Linked DNA regions of Homo sapiens: region 2 is linked to region 1. Evidence: fine-mapped expression QTL. Tissue or cell type: blood mononuclear cells. Region 1 holds a variant in brackets; the other region holds the start of a gene. All regions are shown on one strand. Distances are between the middles of the regions.

Region 1 (5,965 bases):
GCCATCTCCTAACTTCTAGAACTTTCCTGGCCTTTCCTCTCCCAGCCCTTCCAATGCTTCTCTTTCTGCTCAAAATACCTAGAGTGGCTTCTGTTTTCTTGATTGAACCCTGACTGCTACAAACAATACCCTCGCATATCCTGCACATGCCAGGAACACATGCCAGTCTATCTGTAGTATAAGTTACTAGAAGTCAAATTTTCAGGTCAGTTTCAAGGTTGCTGGTGTATTAGTTTGCTAGGGCTGCCATAACAGAGAACCACAGACTGGGTGGCTTAAACAACGGAAAATTTATTTCCTCACAGTCTGAGGCTGAAGTCTGAGATTAAGATGTTGGCAGAGTTAGTTTCACTCTATGGGTGTATGTGTCCAAATTTCCTCTTCTTATAAAGACATCTGTCATATTGGATTAGGGCCCCACCCTAACAATCTCATTTTAACTTAATTCCCTCTTTAAAGACCCTGTCTCCAAATACAGTCACATTCTGAGGTACTGGAGGTTAGGACTTCAGCGTGTGAATTTTGAGGGGATGCAACTCAGTCCATAACAGATAACTAGCTATTCCCAACTCACCCTCCCTGGCAATTGTCCCAAACAGCAGGTACATGAAATGTGTCAGCAAACCTGGTGATCATCACCAATCTAACAGGTAAGAAAATGCACATAGTGTTGTTTTAATTTGCATTTCTCCTACTCTGAGTGACATTAACATCTTTTCATGTGTTTGAATCATTCATATTTCCTTTCCTGAGAAAGATTTGTACAGGACAATTTTCTAGGTGACCTTAAACCAGCCCGGTTCTCCCATCTTTCTTGCTTGTAGTTCTGAAAATTAACTGTAGAATGTGCTAGAAATGCAACATCTTGAGATAAGGGGGAGCTGGCCAGAACTGCTCAGGCTCTGTTCCAGTTCCGCCTTAGAAACAGGGTGGCTCATGCCTGTAATCCCAGCACTTTGGGAGGCCAAGGCAGGCAGATCACCTGAGGTCAGGAGTTCAAGACTAGCCTGGCCAACATGGTGAAACCCCGTCTCTACCAAAAATACAAAAAATTAGCCAGGCATGGTGGCAGGCACCTGTAATCCCAGCTACTCGGGAGGCTGAGGCAGAAGAATTGCTTAAACCCGGGAGGTGGAGGTTGCGGTGAGCCAAGATCGCACCACTGTACTCCAGCCTGGGCAACAAGAGCGAGACTCTGTCTCAAAAAAAAAAAAAAGAAAAGAAACAGGGTGTCCTTCAACACTGTAGCTCAGCCACTCACAGAGCATAAAGCTCAGGGCAGGCTGCTTTTCAGGGTTCTTCAGCCATGGTGCAGGTGGGACGCATGAAGTCAAGATTCCATCAGCCCTGGGCAGCTGGCCTGAGCCTGGGGAACTGGCTCTGAATGAATCCTAGGCCTCTGTTGCCCCTTGCTGCCAATCTGTAATAAATCCTCATCGTGTAACTGGGTACATGTGAGTGTGTTCCGTCTCACCAGATGCCGACAAGTTGGTAAGCCGCGCACGGTGAGCCTGCTTCGCGGTTGGTTCATATCCTTTGCCTATTTTTCTATTGGCTTATTTGTCTTTGTCTTTGTCTTTTTTTCCATTGCGACACCTACTAAAATGGGATTGACTTTTACTTATTTGTTGAAGGGGTTCATTAAAGACATTTATCTGATATGCACTGAAAATATTTTTCCATTTGTCATCTATCTTTTGACTTTGTTCATAATTTTTCTGTGATACAGTGATATTTTAATGTAAATTTTCCATCTTTTCCTTAATGGCTTCTAGGTACTATGTCGTTATTCTTAGAAAGTCCTCTCCTACCCAAAAAGCACTGAAAATTTAAAAATTAAAAACAAGACTGGACGTGGTGGCTCACACCCGTAATCCCAGCAATTTGGGAGGCCGAGGCGGGTGGGTCACGAGGTCAGGAGTTTGAGACCAGCCTGGCCAGCATGATGAAACCCCGTCTCTACTAAAAATACAAAAATCAGCCGGGCCTGGTGGCGCATGCCTGTAATCCCAGCTACTAGGGAGGCTGAGGCAGGAGAATTGCTTGATCCTGGGGGGCGGAGGTTGCAGTGAGCCGAGATCGCGCCATTGCACTCCAGCTCTGGGCAACAGAGCAAGACTCTGTCTTGGAAAAAATAAATAAATAAAAATTAAATTTAAAAAGCTCTTTCCAACTTTAAGTTATAAAATAAATTTTCCATATTTTCTTCTAGTACTGTCATATTTCACTTTTTACATTAACATATTTGATCCACCTGAAATGTATTTTAATATAAGACATGAGGTATTGCTGGGCGTGGTGGCTCATGCCTGTAATCTCAGCACTTTTGGAGGCCAAGGCAGGATGATCACTTGATTCCAGGAGCACAAGATCAGCCTGAGCAACATAGTGACACCCCATTTCTACAAATAATAGTCTAAAAATATTAGCCAGGAGTGGTGGTGTGTGCCTGTGGTCCTAGCTACTCAGGAGACTGACAGGAGTATCACCTGAACCTG[G/A]GAGCAGTGAGCCATGATCACACCACTGCACTCCAGCCTGGGTGACAGAGTGAGACCCTGTCTCAAAAAAAAAAGATATTAATATAATTTTTCCTCTAGGCAGATGGTATTCCAGTTACGCCAACACCAGTGGAAGTGGCAGATTTATTACGTACTGAATTATCGTGTGGACTTGGGTCTAATTCCATGTTTCCTGGGCACATTTGAGACCTCTGCACTTCTCAAACCTCTGACTCTGACATCTCCCCTCTTTTCATCAGATGACCTTGCCTTTTAATTCAAAGAGCACGTGGAAGGACTCGTGGGAAGAGCACCTCCAGTTTAAAAACAAAAGACCCATCCCCTGCTTGCCTCCACCTGAGTCTCAGAGCCCACCCTTCCCAAGCGCTTAGGACCACTGTCTCTCTTCTGTGGTCAACATCCATTGCTCCACTAATCCTTCTCCATAGCCTTTTCTTTTCTTTTCTTTTCTTTTTTTTTTTTTTTTTTGAGACGGGGTCTCATTCTGTTGCCCAGGCTGGAGTGCAGTGGTGCCATCTCGGCTCACTGCAACCTTTGCCTCCCAGGTTCAAGCGATTCTCACACCTCAGCCTCCCAAGTAGCTGAGATTACAGGCACCTGCCAACACGCCCAGCTAATTTTTGTATTTTTAGTAGAGACAGGGTTTCACCATGCTGGCCTCGAACTCCTGACCTTATGTGACCCGCCCACCTCAGCCCCCCAAAGTGCTGGGATTGCAGGCCTGAGCCACCGCGCCTAGCTCCATGGCCTTTTAAATGGGCTCAAGACTTTTACGTGTTGAAAACAAACAAAAACAAGAAACTCCTTCAACCCCATGAACCTCTTCAGCTGTGTCCCTACTCTCATCCCACAGCCACATTCCCTGAGGGAATTGTAGTCTCTGCAGTCCCGTTCCCCAGTTACTCCTCAAGACCCTGCACCCCGCTCATCCAGAGTCAGAAATAGTGGAGAGTTCTTGGTCTTGCTTGGTGTCTGGTCTGTCCTCCCAGCTCTGAACGACCACATCCTCTGCCAACATCAAGCAGGACTTCAGCTGGACAGGATGTGGCTCATGACAGCCACTTTCACATGGTTCCCAGAAGGGGAGCCAAAGGGTAGGAGGTCTCAGAGGTGGCAGCCTTCAGTCTCCTGCGAGAGGGAGAGGAGCCGCTGGTCTTCTCTTCCGCAAGTGACCAGTCAGGAGTCCGAGTCCACCCACAGAGGTTGCAGAAAGCAACAGGGCTTGCTCCAAAAGCCTGAACATCACTGGGGTCTGGGGCTGTAAGGGGGTACCGGGGGGCTCATGAGAGGGCAGTGTAAGTGCCTTCCTGCCCATCTTCAAGCCAGGCCCTGGAGCCAGCCACCTGCCTCAGCAATTTCCCCATTGCCAGTTCCAGGCCAGGTGAGACTCGTAAAATCACTCACAAAGCAGAATGTGTAGTCAGAGCTGGGGAAGCACCAGCCTGAGGGGCAGGAGGCTAAAGTCAGGAGCTGTGTACTAAGCAATTCACACGCTCCCTCTCCCCAGAGAGATCTGGCCTTTGTGCCTTTGTCCTGGCTCCTGGAAGACCACACCTGATGGTTTACCGTTACCCTAATGAGGTGACTCATGATGGGCCCCTGAGGGCGAGAGCTGTCAGAGCAACCCCCGGGGCGAAGAAACAAGCTAGAGACCCAGTTCAACCTCACAGGCAATGATTCCATCACCCTGCCCACAGAGGGAAACTGCAACACAAATTCTGACATCAAAGCCCGGGGAAGCTTCCGTGGTTGGCGGTACTCTGCGAATTGTCATACATCACAGCAAGGAGGAGGTGATGCCACACCCGTTGGCGGTACTCTGCGAATTGTCACACATCACAGCAAGAAGGAGGTGATGCCACACCGGTGGCTGCCAGCTCCTCATCAGGACCCTCCCTGGACTCTACCCTGTGTCTCTTCCTTTGGCTGGTTCTAATTAGTATCCTTTCCCGTTCATAAACATGGGGGCAATAGTGCTGTGCTTAAGGAAGCACCAGCAATTGGAGGTGAACCCAGACAGGAAGAATCCAGCCCCAGCCTTGTCCCGCCGTCTGAGGATGACACCAGGAAGTCCTGACCTCCCAGGACCTGAAGCAGAAGGGCGCTTGGTATGGTGACATGGGCGGGACGGTCTGCCACTGGGTCGACCAGCCCACCTTTGTGATGAACCTAAGTAGATTAATTTCATTTTCTGGGAGGGTGTAGTGGGTGGAGGGCACAGATAGTCAGCCAAAGTATCATCCCAGACCCAAAGAATCAGGGGATCTGTTTGCTTTTTCAATAAAAAGAGATGGGGGTAAGTTTGTGCAGATACGAGGAGCACTTAAAATCACAGGTAGAATAATAGGAGAAGAACAGAATTGTCTGAGTTTAGTGCAAGGAGAGGGAGAGGCCTCAGAGCCACTGGGGCAAACCCCAGCCCTTGCAAACAACGCTTCCTCAACACCCGTAGGCAGCCATGGTTTTTTCGGATGGATCTAGCTTGGGGCAACCACAGCTTAAGGAAGAACTAGGGGTACCGTGTCTTCAGCTGGGGAGCAGAGCCCACAGGCCTGCTGAGCCCTCAGCCTCCAGTTCCCCGGTGGGGCCTTCCAGCTTCACTGCTTCCTCAGAGCCTGTGGGAACATTGCTACCTCCACCCTTCACCATGATTGGTGTGGGCCTTTGCATTATCCTCTGTTAACCTGCAGGTGGTCTTAACCTGGGGTCCACGAATGCCCACAGGGTCCACAGAGAGCATTCAGGGGACTCATATGCATGGATGGGAATAAATAGACATCTTTGTTTTCACCAACCCTTAACTTTTCTTCAAAATTTGTTAAGGTAGTGGCAAAAAACCACAATAGTATTAGCAGTTCTGTGACTTTGTCACTATATCAGTCAGATCGCAACCAGAGAAACACAACCAGCAGGAGGTACAGCCCATGCTCCTGATTCGTGGTGGTTATGTTCTATAAAATCACCACAAACACTGGATTAGTGAATGTTGAAGCTTTGCTCCTGGGAGAAATTAGGTTCCTCCTTAGGTACCTGTGAGGGTCTGGTCACAGTATTTTCTTTCTTTCTTTTTTTTTTTTTGGACCGAGTCTCACTCTATTGCCCAGGCTGGAGTGCAGTGGTGTGTGGTGCATTCTCAGCAAACTGCAACCTCCACTGCCTGGATTCAAGTGATTCTCGTGCCTCAGCCTCCCAAGTAGCTGTGATTACAGGTGTGTGCCACCACGCCTGGCTAATTTTTTTTATTTTTAGTAGAGATGGGGTTTCACCATGTTGACCAGGCTGGTCTCAAACTCCTGGCCTCAAGTGATCCGCTCACCTCGGCCTCCCAAAGTGCTGGAATTACAGGCTTGAGCCACCATGCCCGGCCTAGTCACAATATTTTCCTCAGTCGACCAACGCATAACCTTTTTTTATGTTTGTTTCTGTTTAAAGACACTGAAGTTAAT
Region 2 (5,965 bases), 29 kb before region 1:
GGGGTGGGATATAAAAGAAAGTGGAGGTGGAGGTAGGGATGGGCTGAGGGGCCAAAAGATGTACTGGGGAAGGGGGCATTTCTTGGGGTCCTCCAACGTCCTGGCTCACGAGCTTCCCCCTCCAAGGGAGCAACCTGAGGTGCACAGAGTGGCCTTGTGACAAGGACACAGAACCCACCTCCACCTTGGCTTGGGACTCCTGCAGCCTATGCAGCCAGCTCATCCGTCACCCACCCTCTTCTCCTGGTATCTGCCACTCTGGAACTTCCCTCTACCTCTGGGCTCTGCCTTCAGCCAGGGTTGGGGACAGCAGGTAGGCAGATCCCATCGCAGACAGGCCTGCCTTCCTCAGGGCCTCGCTTAAATCCACAGGAATCTGCTGGGGCTCTGCCCTCTGGCTGGGGCAGGTGGAACTGGCCAGATTGGCGGTGGGGGGACCACTGTGCTTGCCATAGGGACTGGCCCAGCTGCCCCACAGGGGAGCACATTGGAGTAACAGGGGAGGCTGACCCGAGCCTGGCCCGGCTCCACACTCCCCACCCCCACCCCACCATCAGGGACTCGCATTTAATTGTCATTCATTTCCCCTCTCTGAATTCAAACTAGGCACAGATCAAATGATTCCATGATGACAAACTGCCTGTCTCAACTGACCAGATTCCACTGGCAAACACTCCGCTGACCTTGGGCAGCTCCCTCTGCTCCCACCTCCTCTGGCCCTTGTGCTTCTGGGGCTTTGTGGAGTAGCTGGACATCAATGATAACACTAACAGTAGCCGGCCTGCCACCAAGTTCTTTACATAGGGGATGCCTATGTCTGTGCTTCATTGGCGTCATCTCACAAGGCCCTGAGCTGGCAGGAAATTGAGGTCTCAAGGGGAAAAGCCACCTGCCCCCAGTGACAACCAGGAAGTGCAAGACTCTGACCCAACGCCCATGCCTGCCATCCCCAAACATGGGCTCAAAACCCCCTTCCCAGGGACGGCTGTGTCCACCCCTCAGCAGGAGGAGGAGACCCCACAGCACCGGGTGAGAGGTCAGTGCTGAAGCCAGGGAGGCAGCTCTCAGCAGGGCACCTGTGTGGAGCCAGGGAAGCCAGGGCCACACTTGCAGGGTGAAGTGGGGAACTCGGAAGGCTGGGCAGTGGAGCAAAATGCTTGGTGCCCTGCGGGAACCGGTGGCCAAGGCTACACTGGGATGAAGGGAGCCGTGGAGCTGCAGAATCTGCGGGTGGCCCTCAGTGGCAGGCAGCCAGGCCAACAGGGGCTTTGGGCTGCAGGTCAGCCCCTCCCCTGCTCTGGAACTTTTGGAGGGCCATTACAAAGGACATCAGCCCCAAGATACTCCTCTGAAATTCTGCCTGAAAGGCCCTTCACATTCCCTAATTGGCACTTACAACATTCCAGAACATTCTATGGTACCTTAAGTTTCTCCTCCCCCTCCAAAGGGCCCTTGAACCTTAAGGATAGGGCAGAAGGGGCTCCTCACCCTGGCCTCGAGGGCTTAAGATCCAGCTGAGGACTCCTAGCCTCCCTGTGTGCTGGGCAGGAAAGTAGCTCCATGTCACTGCTGTCCCTGGGAAAGGAAAAAAGGTTGAGGAAGGGCTCAGAGCCAGCCTTCAGACCAGGCAGGAAGGGTTCAGAGCCAGCCTTCAGGCCATGCAGGCCTCCTGGATGTGCTTACTAACTCTGGGCTCGCTGTTCTCTGAGCTGGCTGGGAGTTCCCCTCTGCACCCCCGTTTCCTCCCCTGTAAGGTGGGAATAATAGCGTATGTCTCTAGGATTAAGTGAGCCAGTCATGCATGGGCCGAGAACCAGGTTTGGCATATTGTAGCTGCTCAGTGGACGTTAGCTGTTATGATTGGACCACAACGTGCTTCCGTTTCAATTCTGTGGGCCTTTTGGAGGTCCTGCTGGATGCTAAGCACCGAAACCTCAACCCGGAACAAGACCAGAACAACCTGAGCAACAACAGGACCAGCGATGGCTCTCCCTGCTGGAGGATTCTGGAAGTCACCTGGCTGGACCAAGCCCTCTCCGTGTTCTCTGTCAGCCCACTCCCCAGAGCCGCTAGGCCTGATGTGCACAAGCAGACTAATAAAGGCTTGAGGACAAAAAGGGTTTTGAGTGATAAGTGAAAAAAGAAAGGAGATAGGGCTGGGCCAACAGGCCTTCCCTTGGTGGTGGGGAGCCCTCAGAGGTGGGAGGAACCCCAGAGGTGAAGAGAGGGACATGGTGGGGGCACAAAAAAAGCTTCCAGAGCCACAGGCCTGGGCGAGTCCTGACATGGAGCCCAGTCTCATACGGCCTCTTTCCCTAGTGGCTGGCTTTGCTCCTGGCCCTAGGTAGCCCAACAGCTGGGCAAGGGGTCCGTCTGGTCAGGGGAAAGGTGCAGGGGCAGAAGGTAGCAGAGGGAGAAAAGGACACCCTGTCTGCCTCTGGCCCCAAAGACAAGTCCGAATGGGGCCAGAGGGAAATGGCTGGGCCTTGGGGTGCCCCAGGGTCTTGGAGGGGACCGGGTGTTCAGGTTTCGCACAAGTACAGGAGGGACCGGCGACCGCCCTCCCCCCGCCCCGGGAGGCTCCGCCAGGGACAGGCGTCCCCGGGATTGGAGGTGACCCCCGTGGGTTCCGAAGCCCCGCCTCGGCCATGCACTGTCTACTAGGCGCGCTTGGGGAGCCTAGGGGCCGTCTCGGAGAAATGGGGTGGTCCCCGCCAGGCGGCGGCGGGGCGGGCCCTGGGCGCCGAAGGGGTTAAGGCACCTGGGCCACCGCCCCTGCCGGCCCCTCCTCCCGCGGCCGGGAAGAGGAAAGTCGCGGCGGGGGCGCGGCCCGGTCTCCGTCCCCACCCGCCCGCCGTCCCGCCGGCCCGAGCCGTGGCGCCCAGAGCTGCGAGCCGCTCGCCCCTCCGCCGCTCCGGCCCGGGCCGCCATGTCGCTGTGGTGAGTGGGGCTGGGGGCCGTCGGGGGCCTGGGCGGGGGCGTGGGCCCGGGGCTCCCCCTCCTCCGTGGCCACAGACGGGCGCCGGGACTCCCGGGATAGGAGATGCCCCCGCGCGCGCCGCGCCGGCCTCAGTTTCCCGGGGGCGGATGGGCGGGCGGGCGCGGCGGCGGCGGCGGGAGATGTTCGCGGTACGCGGCCCCGGACCCGTGGGGGACGTCGAGGGGTCTCGGGGCGCCGCGCTCAGCTCCCCGGCCCCGCGGCCCTGGACACCGCTCCAGGACCCTGGCGGCTGGGACCCCAGGTCTTGCCGGCAGCTGGGTCCCCTCTCCCTTCCAGACCCCTGAGGGCCCCCTGCGTCCGGGCCACTCTCCTCCTCTCGGGGCTTCCTTCCGCGGGACCTCGGACCGCCGCCCGCCCGGCCCCTCTCCGCCCCTCCCGGGCTTTCCCTACGAATGGAGCGGACCCGGCAGGTGGAGCGCCCGCAGCCCAGGGCCTCGCCGCCTTCCCGGTGCACCCCCCGACCTCCCCCGTCCCGGCCTCGGTGGGCGGCTTCCCTGGAACCCCTAGGGCTGGCAGGGCCGGATCCGGAGCCCTCCGTTTCCTCCCCGGAGAGCTGGACCTTGGGTCACACCCCCCAGCCTGCACCTAAGGTGCCCCTGTCTTCCTCCAACCACATGCCCCAGCAACCTGGGGACCCTATGGGGAAAATGTCGCTCTATGGGGCTCAGCCTGCATTCACCCTGGGGCCTGGACCTGCAACCGGACCAGCCCTCAGGGCAACCCAGGCGTCTCCACGGGCTGCCTGTCTCTCCTGGCACCCTGCTCCTCCCCCTTGGAGGTCAGCGCCATCTCTCTGCTAGGCTGGCCCTGGAAGGCCACTCTGCTGTCCCCAGAGCTCTCAGCCCCCAGGTCTCCACTGGGGAGGGTGGGGCAGGTGTCCTGGCAGCCCCCGGAGGGTGAGATGAAGAGAGGAGGTCCTTCAGGACAGGGGCTCAGGCCCCAGGGCTTGGGACGACCAGCACTCCTGGCAGAGAGCTCTAATTTCTGCTTCCGAAATGGGTGTGGACCGGGGTTGGGGTGGGGGGGTCTCTGGGCAAGAAGGGTCCCTCAAGGGCTGGAGCTGCAAATGTGCCCCCTCCCAGGGAGTAGAGCTGTAGCCTCATGTCTTCTAATGGGGTGTTATGAGCTGGGGATGTTAAGGTAGGGGTGAGGGGCAGTGCCATGCTAGAGGTGCTCACTGCATCCTTGGGCCTCCATCAACCATGAGGGCTGCTCTTTGTTGGGTGAGACAGACTGGAGAAGGGGGAGGAGGGCCAGTCTTCCTCAGGTCCCAAGCTCGAGCCACTCTCCAATGTGCCCCACATGTGATGGAGCTCCCGGGCGGCACAGAGGATCAGAGGGTGCCCTCTCAATGACTCTGGCTCTGAGTCACCTAATGATACCGATACCTACTGCTGTGGGTAGGTACACCGCAGGGAAATGAAAGGCATTGGGGTTCCAGGCGTGGGGAACAGGGCAGAGGTTTCCACCTGAGGCCCTCCTGTTAAGGTGACAGCATTCCCCTAACTGTGCACCCGCTGCCTGGTACTTTATATAGCACTCCAATCCTGTGTTTTAGCCCCATTTGGGGGAAGAAGAAATCGTGGCTCAGAGTGGTTGTAAACCACTCATTCAGCTTGTAAGCGTCAGGGCCTGATTCCACAGTGCTCCTTGAGGAGAGGGCAGGGTGGGAGAAAGAAAGGGCAGGGTGGGAGAGGAAGCGGGACCCTACCCTGACAGCTTAGGGACTCCGGGACTGAGCCTGTGCCCAGGTCCACTTGCCCGTCTGGGACCACCCAGCCTCCCAAGGGGGGCGCCAGGAGAGCCCTGGGCTCATCTTTTCTCTCTCCTCTGTACTGTCCGCTCTCCCCCACAGGAAGAAAACCGTCTACCGGAGTCTGTGCCTGGCCCTGGCCCTGCTCGTGGCCGTGACGGTGTTCCAACGCAGTCTCACCCCTGGTCAGTTTCTGCAGGAGCCTCCGCCACCCACCCTGGAGCCACAGAAGGCCCAGAAGCCAAATGGACAGCTGGTGAACCCCAACAACTTCTGGAAGAACCCGAAAGATGTGGCTGCGCCCACGCCCATGGCCTCTCAGGGGCCCCAGGCCTGGGACGTGACCACCACTAACTGCTCAGCCAATATCAACTTGACCCACCAGCCCTGGTTCCAGGTCCTGGAGCCGCAGTTCCGGCAGTTTCTCTTCTACCGCCACTGCCGCTACTTCCCCATGCTGCTGAACCACCCGGAGAAGTGCAGGGGCGATGTCTACCTGCTGGTGGTTGTCAAGTCGGTCATCACGCAGCACGACCGCCGCGAGGCCATCCGCCAGACCTGGGGCCGCGAGCGGCAGTCCGCGGGTGGGGGCCGAGGCGCCGTGCGCACCCTCTTCCTGCTGGGCACGGCCTCCAAGCAGGAGGAGCGCACGCACTACCAGCAGCTGCTGGCCTACGAAGACCGCCTCTACGGCGACATCCTGCAGTGGGGCTTTCTCGACACCTTCTTCAACCTGACCCTCAAGGAGATCCACTTCCTCAAGTGGCTGGACATCTACTGCCCCCACGTCCCCTTCATTTTCAAAGGCGACGATGACGTCTTCGTCAACCCCACCAACCTGCTAGAATTTCTGGCTGACCGGCAGCCACAGGAAAACCTGTTCGTGGGCGATGTCCTGCAGCACGCTCGGCCCATTCGCAGGAAAGACAACAAATACTACATCCCGGGGGCCCTGTACGGCAAGGCCAGCTATCCGCCGTATGCAGGCGGCGGTGGCTTCCTCATGGCCGGCAGCCTGGCCCGGCGCCTGCACCATGCCTGCGACACCCTGGAGCTCTACCCGATCGACGACGTCTTTCTGGGCATGTGCCTGGAGGTGCTGGGCGTGCAGCCCACGGCCCACGAGGGCTTCAAGACTTTCGGCATCTCCCGGAACCGCAACAGCCGCATGAACAAGGAGCCGTGCTTTTTCCGCGCCATGCTCGTGGTGC

What was found. PIP is the estimated chance that this variant, and not a neighbour inherited with it, causes the effect.
Region 2: it holds the start of B3GNT7, and the variant in region 1 is fine-mapped to the expression of B3GNT7 in blood mononuclear cells (TOPMed, PIP 0.97). The same link has a PIP of 0.9 or more in whole blood.

The regions. Positions count from the first base shown.
Region 1 is chr2:231,421,918-231,427,882 of GRCh38, forward strand. No RefSeq gene overlaps it. Among named protein-coding and RNA genes, the nearest start is that of B3GNT7, 29 kb to the left of the region's middle. The variant G/A (reference allele first, on the strand shown) is at 2,499.
Region 2 is chr2:231,392,875-231,398,839 of GRCh38, forward strand. It overlaps B3GNT7 (UDP-GlcNAc:betaGal beta-1,3-N-acetylglucosaminyltransferase 7), which reads left to right and starts at 2,836. Exons shown (of 2, transcript NM_145236.3): 1 at 2,836-2,940; 2 at 4,857-5,965. The coding sequence starts at 2,930. RefSeq lists enhancers at 458-1,040, 1,041-1,622, 1,918-1,967, 4,236-5,435, 4,378-4,447 and 1 more and a silencer at 2,518-2,987.